Homo sapiens: one gene and its partners. The protein of the gene in region 2 purifies or fractionates together with the protein of the main gene of each other region. This does not show direct contact. Each region holds a gene or a part of one and is shown on either strand. Other genes may lie near its edges. The genes, in order: PUS7, ACTR6 and RAB18.

Evidence for each region.
Region 1: the proteins of ACTR6 (region 2) and PUS7 fractionate together in Homo sapiens (co-fractionation; one large-scale study listed by BioGRID). This does not show direct contact.
Region 3: the proteins of ACTR6 (region 2) and RAB18 purify together in Homo sapiens (co-immunoprecipitation; one large-scale study listed by IntAct). This does not show direct contact.

The regions. Positions count from the first base shown.
Region 1 is NC_000007.14:105,512,123-105,515,776, reverse strand, and holds part of PUS7 (pseudouridylate synthase 7 homolog), read left to right. Parts: intron 1-3,654. UniProt on the Homo sapiens protein: Pseudouridylate synthase that catalyzes pseudouridylation of RNAs.
Region 2 is NC_000012.12:100,217,745-100,221,398, reverse strand, and holds part of ACTR6 (actin-related protein 6), read right to left. Parts: intron 2,985-3,654; coding exon 2,813-2,984; intron 1,392-2,812; coding exon 1,253-1,391; intron 1-1,252. UniProt on the Homo sapiens protein: Required for formation and/or maintenance of proper nucleolar structure and function. Plays a dual role in the regulation of ribosomal DNA (rDNA) transcription.
Region 3 is NC_000010.11:27,510,804-27,514,457, reverse strand, and holds part of RAB18 (ras-related protein Rab-18), read right to left. Parts: intron 1-3,654. UniProt on the Homo sapiens protein: The small GTPases Rab are key regulators of intracellular membrane trafficking, from the formation of transport vesicles to their fusion with membranes.

The DNA of each region.
Region 1 (3,654 bases), on a different chromosome or scaffold from region 2:
AAACTTAGTCGGGCCCAGCTACTCAGGAGGCTGAGGCGTGAGAATTGCTTGAACTCAGGAGTTGGAGGTTGCAGTGAGCCGAGATTGTGCCACTGCACTCCAGCCTGGGTGACAGCAAGACTCTGTGTCAAAAAAAAATTAATTTGTCTATGATAGGGCCATTGACTTAAACAATGAAAAATGTAATTTCATTTGAAATTTAAAAGTGAGTTTAGTTTATTCTTGTCTTTTCAGTTAGATATATCAAGAAAAAGAGATCAGACAAATGTCCACAAATATCAAGAAAAAGACTGGCAACCTAAAGGCCTGTTGTCAACCTAAAATAATCAAAAACGTCAGAATCTAGTACAAAGAGAAATTATTCAAGTGCAAAGTTTGAGGATGTCCCACCTGGAAACACCAGTTCTAAAAAAATGGAGTCAAAGTTCTGAAGTAGGGAAGTTTAGGTTTTATATAGGCAGAGACAGGAGTTTTTAGCAGGATTACAACATTTTTCGTACAGGGTTTTCACATAGTTACAGCAATTTGATTGGTTATAGGCAGTGTTTCTTTTTGGGGAGAGTACATTGGGGAAGGTGTAATAGTTATGGGTTTTCTGTCATACGGTTTAAGCATAAGCAGGACACCAAAGGGAAAGTTCCTCTCTAACAAGGGTCATTAATTAAGAATTTTTAGTCATTGTAGGCCAGGCGCGGTGGCTCACGCCTGTAATCCCAGCACTTTGGGAGGCCAAGGCGGGCAGATCACGAGGTCAGGAGATCGAGACCATCCTGGCTGACACAGTGTAACCCAGTCTCAACTAAAAATACAAAAAATTAGCTAGGCGTGGTGGCGGGCGCCTGTAGTCCCAGCTACTCGGGAGGAGGCTGAGGCAGGAGAATGGCGTGAGCCCAGGAGGCGGAGCTTGCAGTGAGCCGAGATTGCGCCACTGCTCTCCAGCCTGGGGCACAAAGCGAGACTCCGTCTCAAAAAAAAAAAAATGAGAGAGAATTTTTAGTTATTATATGGAACAGGAAAAATGAAAGTAAGCTAATCTGTAATCTGAAAAACAAATTGTAACCATATGTGACTCAGATCATAGTCACATCTCTCTCAAGGCTTAAAAAGTGTTTTGGGGATTCCAACAGCTTTTAGATTCTGTTTTCTTTTCTTTTCTTTTCTTTTCTTTTTTTTGAGATGGAGTCTCGCTCTGTCACCCAGGCTGGAGTACAGTGGCGCGATCTCGGCTCACTGCAAGCTCGGCCTCCCGGGTTCACGCCATTCTCCTGCCTCAGCCTCCTGAGTAGCTGGGACTACAGGCGCCCGTCACCACGCCCAGCTAATTGTTTGTATTTTTAGTAGAGATGGGGTTTCACTGTGTTGGACAGGATGGTCTCGGTCTCTTGACCTTGTGATCCACCTGCCTTGGCCTCCCAAAGTGCTGGGATTACAGGCATGAGCCACTGTGCCCAGCCAGCTTTTTTTCTTTTTTTAAACTCCTCCAGACATAACAACAATACAGTTCAGCTATGTAAATCATCCATAATAACTATTTTTTTTTTTTTTTGAGACGGAGTCTTGCTCTGTCACCCAGGCTGGAGTGCAGTGGCACAATCTCGGCTCACCGCAAGCTCCGCCTCCTGGGTTCACGCCATTCTCCTGCCTCAGCCTCCCGAGTAGCTGGGACTACAGGCACCTGCCACCACACCCGGCTAATTTTTTGTATTTTTTAGTAGAGACGGGGTTTCACCATGTTAGCCAGGTTGGTTTCGATCTCCTGACTTCGTGATCCGGCCTGCCTTGGCGATCCACCTGCCTTGGCCTCCCAAAGTGCTGGGATTACAGGCGTGAGCCACCGCGCCCAGCCAGCTTTTTTTCTTTTTTTAAACTCCTCCAGACATAACAACAATACAGTTCAGCTATGTAAATCATCCATAATAACTATTTTTTTTTTTTTTTTGAGACGGAGTCTTGCTCTGTCACCCAGGCTGGAGTGCAGTGGCACAATCTCGGCTCACCGCAAGCTCCGCCTCCTGGGTTCACGCCATTCTCCTGCCTCAGCCTCCCGAGTAGCTGGGACTACAGGCACCTGCCACCACACCCGGCTAATTTTTTGTATTTTTTAGTAGAGACGGGGTTTCACCATGTTAGCCAGGTTGGTCTCGATCTCCTGACTTCGTGATCCGGCCTGCCTTGGCGATCCACCTGCCTTGGCCTCCCAAAGTGCTGGGATTACAGGCGTGAGCCACCGCGCCCAGCCCATCAATAATAACTATTAAGGACTAACAGTTGAATAAGAGGAGCTATTACAGACCTTTGGCCAAGTCATCATATTTTACTTTTACAGAGAAAGAAACAGATTCGAGAGGTTAAGTCACCCACTTAGTAAATGGCAAAACCTAGATCTGTCTCCAAGATTGTTGAGAGGGGGAGGCCTGATGTTTTTTCTGCATAAGGAGAGGAGGTGAATATTTTGCTGACTGTGAAGTCCCTGTGCCAAGCTGTGTGAATGGCCGTTATTGGCCACTCTTTCTTCCTTACTGAGAGTTCTGGCCTCTGGAAGGGCATCAGGATCTCCTGGTAGAGCTGTGATGCCAGCTGGGAAGCTTGTATGGTCATTGGGGAGGCATTGCAGGTTTTTGGTAAGGGCATGTGTGACACAATGTGATGAGTGCCCGCAGATCGTCTCCACTGGGATGTCTCCCCAGGAACCTGCAACACCACAGGACTATGGGTGGGCTCATCTTCTTCCAACACCTGCTCTTCTTTCTGGGACCCTCATATCAGGAGGACCACCACTGTCCTCTCAGTTCCCCAGGGATGGAAACTTGAGTCATCCTGAAGTATTTCCCCTTTCCTCCCACATTTGTCACCTTCTCCTGTCCCTGCTACTACTTCCTAAATGTTCTTGAAAGTCGCCTTTTTCTGTCTCCCTTGCTTCAGCCTTAGATCAGATTATATTAATTTCTTGCCTAGATTACAGCTGTACCCTCTTACCTGGTCTTCCAGCCTAACCCCAGTTTCTCTTCAAAGGGGTGCCACAGAATCTTTCTGAATTACAAATTCAGTGCTGGTCTGGTTTTCAGGTTGTGACTCCCTCCTTGTAGCCTCATGTGGCCTCCGCCCCTCCCAAGCTGTAACCCCAGACTCTCCTTGTATGTCTAACCCCCACAGTGGGCGATGAGTTCTTTTGCTCTTCCAGCACTCTGTGAGCTCCCACGCCCCCATGCCTTTGCACATGCTGTACCTGTGACCCCAAATGACCTTCTCCTGCTTTTCCTTCCTCTTCCTTATGCCACAAAATTTGGCCCAGGCATTGTAGTCTTTGGTTAGGTTTTGTCTTCAGTGTGTTCTCCCGGTCCTTGTGTAAGCCCTGGTCCATTTTTGTCTCCTTCATTTGTACAAAACCTCTGAGGGTAGTTTTGTTGCTGTAAGGTGAGAGTGAAATCGTGTCAGCATTTCATAAACCAGCGTTCTTTTTTTGACTACACCTGTTCAGGACAAAGAGTAAATGCTTTTTTCTTTGAATTAGGGATACTTTTATGTAACTACAGTTGTGGTCTACTTCTATTCCAGTTTCAGTTTCTTCCATTTTCTGTATTTAATTTCTTGTCTTTCAAAGGATTTTTTTTTTTTTTTTTTTTTTTTTTTTTGAGACAGAATCTCTCTCTGTCA
Region 2 (3,654 bases):
TTTTAAATTGTTTATTCATTTATCTCATAGCTATAAAAGAAAGTGATACCAATGAGGGCCTTCTATTAACTTGCTGATTTTGGAAAATTCTACTTTAGCTTTAAAACAAAACTCTAGAATTAAGAGTCAGGTATGTGGGGTCTTGTTTGCAACTCTGCCACTAACACTAGGGGTGAGTTTTTAGACATATACTTTGGGTAAGAAGTCCTCACTCAAGGTAAGAAAACTGGGTTTTAATCTGATCATTGCTATTAACTCACCATAGGGCATTTGCCAACTCATGAGCCCTTGTTTCTTTATTTACAAAATAAGAATATAGAATAGGATGATATATAAGCCCTTAGAGCTGTAAAATTCTACCTTCTTTTTTTGTTTTTTTTTTTTTGCCAGGGGGGTTTGTTTGTTTGTTTTTGAGACAGAGTCTTGCTTTGTCACCTAGGCTACCATACAGTGGTGCAATCTTAGCTCACACCAACCTCCACCTCCTGGGCTCAAATGATCCTCCTACCTCAGCCTCCTGAGTAGCTGGGACTACAGGTGCACACCAGCACATCCGGCTAATTTTTTGTAGAGACGGGGCTTCACCATGTTGCCCAGGCTGGTCTCAATCTCCTGAACTCAAGTGATCTGCCTGCCTCAGCCTCCCAAAGTGCTGGGATTACAGGCAAGAGCCACTGCGCCTGGCCCTACCTTAGTTTATTTTAACCACTGAAGTGGAAGTGATGATATGCACTTTTTCTCATATAACACTGTACAGGGTAGACATAAAACAGTTTTGAATTTTAAAAACCTCATTAATAAAAGTCATTTAAAGGAGAATTTAAAAAATTCTAAAACAATTTATGAATTGATAAAACTTATCACAATGGTTCAATTATTCAATTTCTATTCCTGACAGAAACTGTCAATAAATAATACATCTCAGATAAATCATATAGACAATAACCTGATTGCTTTGCCTATAAAAATCTCTTAGGACCAAGGCTGATTTACTACATGGGAGTAATCACCCCATATACTTAATTAAGCACCCATTGTGTATGAAACATTATGGCTGGCACTTTACATACTTCCATTTAATTTAGTGAAATGTAAGGTTTATCATTTCAATTTTTGAAAGAAGAAAAATGAATATTCAGCAGGTGAAATGAACCTGCCACCGTGGGAGAGCCAGGTTTTAAACTCAAGTCAACAGACCACCTTTTCTACATGTGGACTTCCATGTTTCGTTTCTATATAAAACAACACTTACTTTTCAGGCAGCACAACAGAAACATCATAATCTGTTGGAGTAAGACATCGAACTTCTGAGTAAACCCGATCCCTAAATCCTGGGAAAAGGGAATTTCCTCCTGTCAAGACAATGTTCTTAAAAAAATGCGGCTGCATTTCTTTAAAAGAAGAAAAGGAGAAGGAAAGGAAAAAAGGCATTAGAAAATCTGTTTACTTTTCTGGAAAGATGTGGATGAGGGATCAGATAAGAAGCAATTAGGGATTACAGTTACTGGTGGGAAACCAAATAAATTTTCAGGTCCATTCTAAGATTTGTAATGAGGTTACAGTTTATACAAATAAAGACATGAAACAGTGAAAAATGACCACATAGATCTTTAAAAGAAAAACCTAAGGTGAGGGGGGTAAACTACTGGCTACTTACTATACACTCATGTAAGCCATATATAAATGAGTGACACTGTAGTAAAAAAAACAGTTGGTAATTATAATTATTCTTCTCTAAAATGGAAGGGGGGTGGTTCTTGCTGTAGGCTGAGACTGTGAGCTACCACAAGGATGAAAACGAGGTCTTTCATGACATTTGAACTTACAAGCCCAAATCTCCACATTATCTCATTGAGGCAAACATGTATGTTGTGCAATACTTACCTTTGATAGTTAAAAACACTCATAAACTATGTTTAAAGAAGGGATCTAAGTATGAACACTCATTAAAGTTACATGATAGCAAATGTTACTTAAAGCCTTCAAAACACCACTGGAAAATCCATCAGGAATTAACAGGTATGGGCCGTCCCACCTAATGTTTCTGTTCAGTAAAACAAGGGCAGAGTTTCCTTATATTGACCTCGAGTCTCACTCTGCCATGACCTTAAAGCAGTGTAGTACAAAATGTTGTACACATCATGACTGCAACTTTATATAAAATGTGAAATATGAAAATAGCTGTGAAATAATTATGTATGGACAGCATTATGTTTTTCTTTTTTTTTTTTTTTTTTTAATGAGAGGAAAGCACATGGCCTGTGCTAGATTTTCTCCAATGCCTACTTCTTGCAAACCAGGGAGATAGTAAAGTACCCTAAAACTCTGGAACATTATTTACTTAAGGCATGTTTCAGGAGAATCCAGAAATCACTATGAAGCACCATATTCCAATCTCTTTAAAATTAATCCTGTATGTTACTCTAAATATAGCAGAAAGAATAAGTCAGTCTACCAATAGCTGAAAACCATTAAATTGTTACATTATAAATTTATATTCTGTACAGATCTGGGTTAAATTAAAACTTTCCTAAAATGGATATGGCAATTTAATGCTCATGGAGAGATACATTTCTTCAAGTTTAAATGGACCATAATGATTTTTCCTCTATCGAATTTATAATCACAAAAAAAAACTTATAATCAAAGATGAATCAAGAATTATATAAATGCATTATGGGATCTACAAATCTCTGCAAATAAAACAGACTCACCAATTTGCCTGAAATTATTTAGAGGAAACAGGGTTCACAGGGCTTATGATGTTTTTAAAACAATTATAATTCTTTAGTATTTTACTCTATTTATGTACCTTCAGGTAGATTTTGAATTGAATAGACAATAGCTTCTGGAATTCCCATTTCTTGAATGCCTATATCAGAAGGATTAAAGAGTATTTCCGGAACAGCAAATCTCTCATTGGCCAAACGAAGAATTTGTTCCCCAGATTTGTATTTTCCACTCAACACCATCTCTTCCCTTGGCTTAAAGACAAAGAAGATTAAAAGTTTAAGTTATATTATCTAGCTCACATGACTAATAATTAGTAATATGCAATTATATATGCAATAATATATTAATAATATATTAATAATGTTCTTGGAAGTTTCAGGATTCTCAAAATTTAGAAGAATGTGTGGCTGCCTTTACTGTTGCCAAAATCACACAAAACACAACTAAATAATTACTGACGCTAATATGGCTGTTCCTTCAAAGATAATTTGGCAGCTTTATTCCACACACTTTAAAATACAAAGAGGGCCAGGTGCCCTGGCTCACACCTGTAATCCCAGCACTTTGGGAGGTCAAGGCGGATGGATCACTTGAGCCCGGGAGTTCAAGACAGCCTGGGAAACATAGCGAGACCCCCGTCTCTTAAAAAACAAAACAAAAATTAAAATACAAAGAAAAAAAGGAGGAGAGACAAGAGAGAACTTCATAATATACCTATAATGGTACAATGATTCTAGTTTCTAGGGAACAAAGAACACATTCTAAATAAAAAACATTTACTATGTCTTGTGTTTCTAGTACTGTCTACTTTCACTCCCCTAATTTAGGTGTTTACTGGATATGTGGCTCTATTCTATTAGGATTCCCCCTTTCCCTTCTGGAAAGAGCCTACATCTCTACATTTCTTTAATATGTATTCAA
Region 3 (3,654 bases), on a different chromosome or scaffold from region 2:
AATTTCATTTATTTTTCTTTCCACTCAATCAGCTTACCTTGCATTTTCTCATGCAATCATTCTATTTCTTCCCCGGCCTCTTATGTCAAGTGCGTTGTGCTCTCAGCAGTAAATACTTCATTAAGTTTTCTAAACTCATGGCAAAATGTTTGATCACAATATTCATCTTCTTTATGGCAATATTTTAGGTTACTGTTCTTCATCTGTCCTTTGTTTTTCTGTTTCTTTCTTCCTTTTTTATTTCCAAACATTTGTGGCAGTCAAGCTTAATGAATTCCTTTTGATTATTCATCTCTGAAGAAGTGCTGGTTGTCCAGAACCTGATATTTGTAGGAGGTTTATGCAGAAGGCCAGAGTGCCTCCAGTTCTGGACTGACAACTTTTTCGTGATTCAGAGATTTACCTAAGAGACAGTTTAGCATTTTACTTCTCAACAGCCAATGCAGACAGGCAGTCTGGAGGTTTTTCACAATGCAGTCATCTCCTCCCCAACTGCTATAGAGATAGACACATATTACTTCCTGCAAAAATGGCTTGTTTATGTGACTCCTTGTTTGGCTTCATTTCCCCGACTTCTTAGAATTAAACCAGGTGCAGGAAAGCTCCTGCCTTGAGCTGAAGAAACCCACTTCACTTTTGTAAACAAGGGGTTTAGGTTTTATACCTCAGGGGGGCCTTGCAGTTTCATGGGTGTTTCTTGTTGTCTCTGAGCTCCACAGCCACGGCATCCTACCTACTTCTTCCCACATGCAGCCAGCCTGATGGCCACTGCTCCTGGCAACATTTCCACCTATTTTGTGGCTTGGGGTTTTTAACTGTCTTCTAGTTTAGTGGAATGCTGGGTTTGTGTGTCAGTTTTTCCCTCTCTTTGTTGTTTTTAGCTAATTGCCAAGAAAGAAGAATGCTAACTTTATAGTACCATCTGCAAATCCCAAATCCAACAATTATCTTAAAAGAGTATTTTATGCAAGACAGAAACTTAAGTGTCTCACTAAGTTACTAAAAGGTAACAATACACTTTCCTTACTACTATTTTACTGTGGGGTAAAATACCAATTTTCATAAAACACTAATTTTCACAAGGCCATTAAGTAATTGTTTTTATGTTTAAAACTCATGTGTGGGCTGGGCGTGGTGGCTCACACCTGTAATCCTAGCACTTTGGGAGGCTGAGGCGGGTGGATCACTTGAGGTCAGGAGTTCAAGACCAGCCTGGCCAATATAGTAAAACCCCATCTCTACTAAAAACATAAAAATTAGCAAGGCATGGTGGCACACACCTGCAATCCCAGCTTCTTGGGAGGCTGAGGCAGAAGAATCACTTGAACCTGGGAGGCGGAGATTGCAGTGAGCTGAGATCATGCACCACTGCACTCCGGCCTGGGCAACACAGCGAGACTCTTGTCTCCAAAAAAAAAAAAAAAATATATATATATATATATGTTATTACCTAAGGCTGAAAGTAATCTGATGCTTCAATGTAAAAGATATTTTGTTCAACATATTCAAGATCTAGGGCCTATTTGGGGAACAAATTACATATATTTTCACCAGCATACTATAATCTTAGTATTTGTCTTTGCAGAAGACAAAGCCTTTTTAGTAATAAAGACAACCCACGATTTGTCATGCCACAAGTCCCCAAATTCCATTTGGGTTTGTAATGAAGACAGTTAATATTATATGTATGTTCATTCCTTCAGTAAAATTTTAACTTTAGGCAAGTTTATTTTCCTGCCAGTTGCTACTGCTCTCCTCCTGGCTAGCCAATACCAATACGTACTCAGGCAGGTTCTGACCAAAATAAGGTTTTACTACTAAGTAATTTTTTATAGGAGTAAATAATACACCAGTATGGGCACAGTGGCTCACACCTATAATCTCAACACTTTGGGAGGCCCAAGGTGGGTGGATCACTTGAGGCCAGGAGTTCAAGACCAGACTGGCCAACATAGCAAAACCCATCTCTACTAAAAATACAAAAATTAGCCAGGTGTGGTGGTGCATGCCTGTAGTCCCAGCTACACAGGAGGCTGAGGCACCAGAATCACTTGAATGGGGAGGTGGAGGCTGCAGTGAGCCAAGGTTGTGCCACTTCACTCCAGCCTGGGCAACAGAGCAAGACTGTGTCTAAAAATAAATAAATAAAATTAAATAATAATAATTATTATTATAATACAACAAAGCCAAATTACAATGGATTTTGAATTCGTGTTTTAAATGATTCCCTTTCCTATGACACAAATAAGAGTAAATCTGTAAATCTTAATATCATGCAAAAGCTAAGTAATGCCTAATTTATTGAAAATTTAGAGGCACCATGAGTTCATATGAAGAAAAAGAAACAAACAAACATGAGCTCCTCCTGAGCTGGGCATGGTGGTACATGGCTGTAGTTCCAGCTACTTGGGAGGCTGAGGCAGGAGGATCACTTGAGCCCAGGAGTCTCAGGCCAGCCTGGGCAACACAGTGAGACACTGCCTCACAAAAAAAGAAAAAAAAAGAGCTCTTACTTACAGAATTCCAAACAAGATACATAGACAGAGTGATGGCATTTTAAAAAAATCCCCATTTGATAACCATCACAGTTGGAATGAAAAGATCATATACTGTCCTTATCACTTGTCACAGGCAAGAATTATCAATGGATGCTACAACAGGAGGGCAAAAAGTGTAAGAAGGAGGATACCTATACAGTCTCAATGTATCTCTCTACAAGAAATATATTAGTTATGAAGGGAAAAATAATAACTTCACTGACACTATGTTCTGAAAAACACTTCTGTGGAATTGCTGCCAAAACTGCATAACCTGAATCTAACCGTTAAGGACATACTGGACATACACAAATTGAGAGACATTCTACAAAATAATTATTTACTCTTCAAAAATGTCAAGGCCCTGAAAAGGCAAATAAAGACTGAAGAATTGCTGATTAAAAGAGGCTGAAGAGGCTCGACGCGGTGGCTCACACCTGCAATCCCAGTACTTTGGGAGGCCGAGGTGGGTAGATCACTTGAGGTCAGGAGCTCAAGACCAGCCTGGCCAACATGGTAAACCCCGTCTCTATCAAAAATACAAAAAAAAATTAGCCAGGCGCAGTGGCATGTGCCTGTAGTCCCAGCTACTTGGGTGGCTGAGGCAGGAGGATCACTTGAACCTGAAAAGTGGAGGTTGCACTGAGCTGAGTTGGTGCCACTGCACTCAGCCTGAGCGACAGAGCTAGACTCTGTCTCGAAAATAAATTAATTCATTAATTAAATGAAATAAAAGAGGCTAAAGAGAAATAACTAAAATCAGTGTATGATCCTGGACCCGAAACAATTATTTGTCTTTTGCTATATGGGACATTAATGGGACAACTGATAAAATCTGTGTATAGACAATAAAATGTATCTATGTTCATTTAAGAAATACACATTAAAGTATGCAGACGTTGAAGACATCATGTCTACAATCTACTCTCATTTTTTTAAAAAAGAATACTGTGTGTAGAGAGAGAATGATAAAGCAAATGTGACAAACATTAACATCTGGAGTAATTTAATAGGATACATAAGAATTATTTGTGCTATTTTTACAAATCTTTGAGTCTGAAATTGTTTCACAATAAAATTTTAAAAATAGACATACAATCAATGAAAACAAATAAAG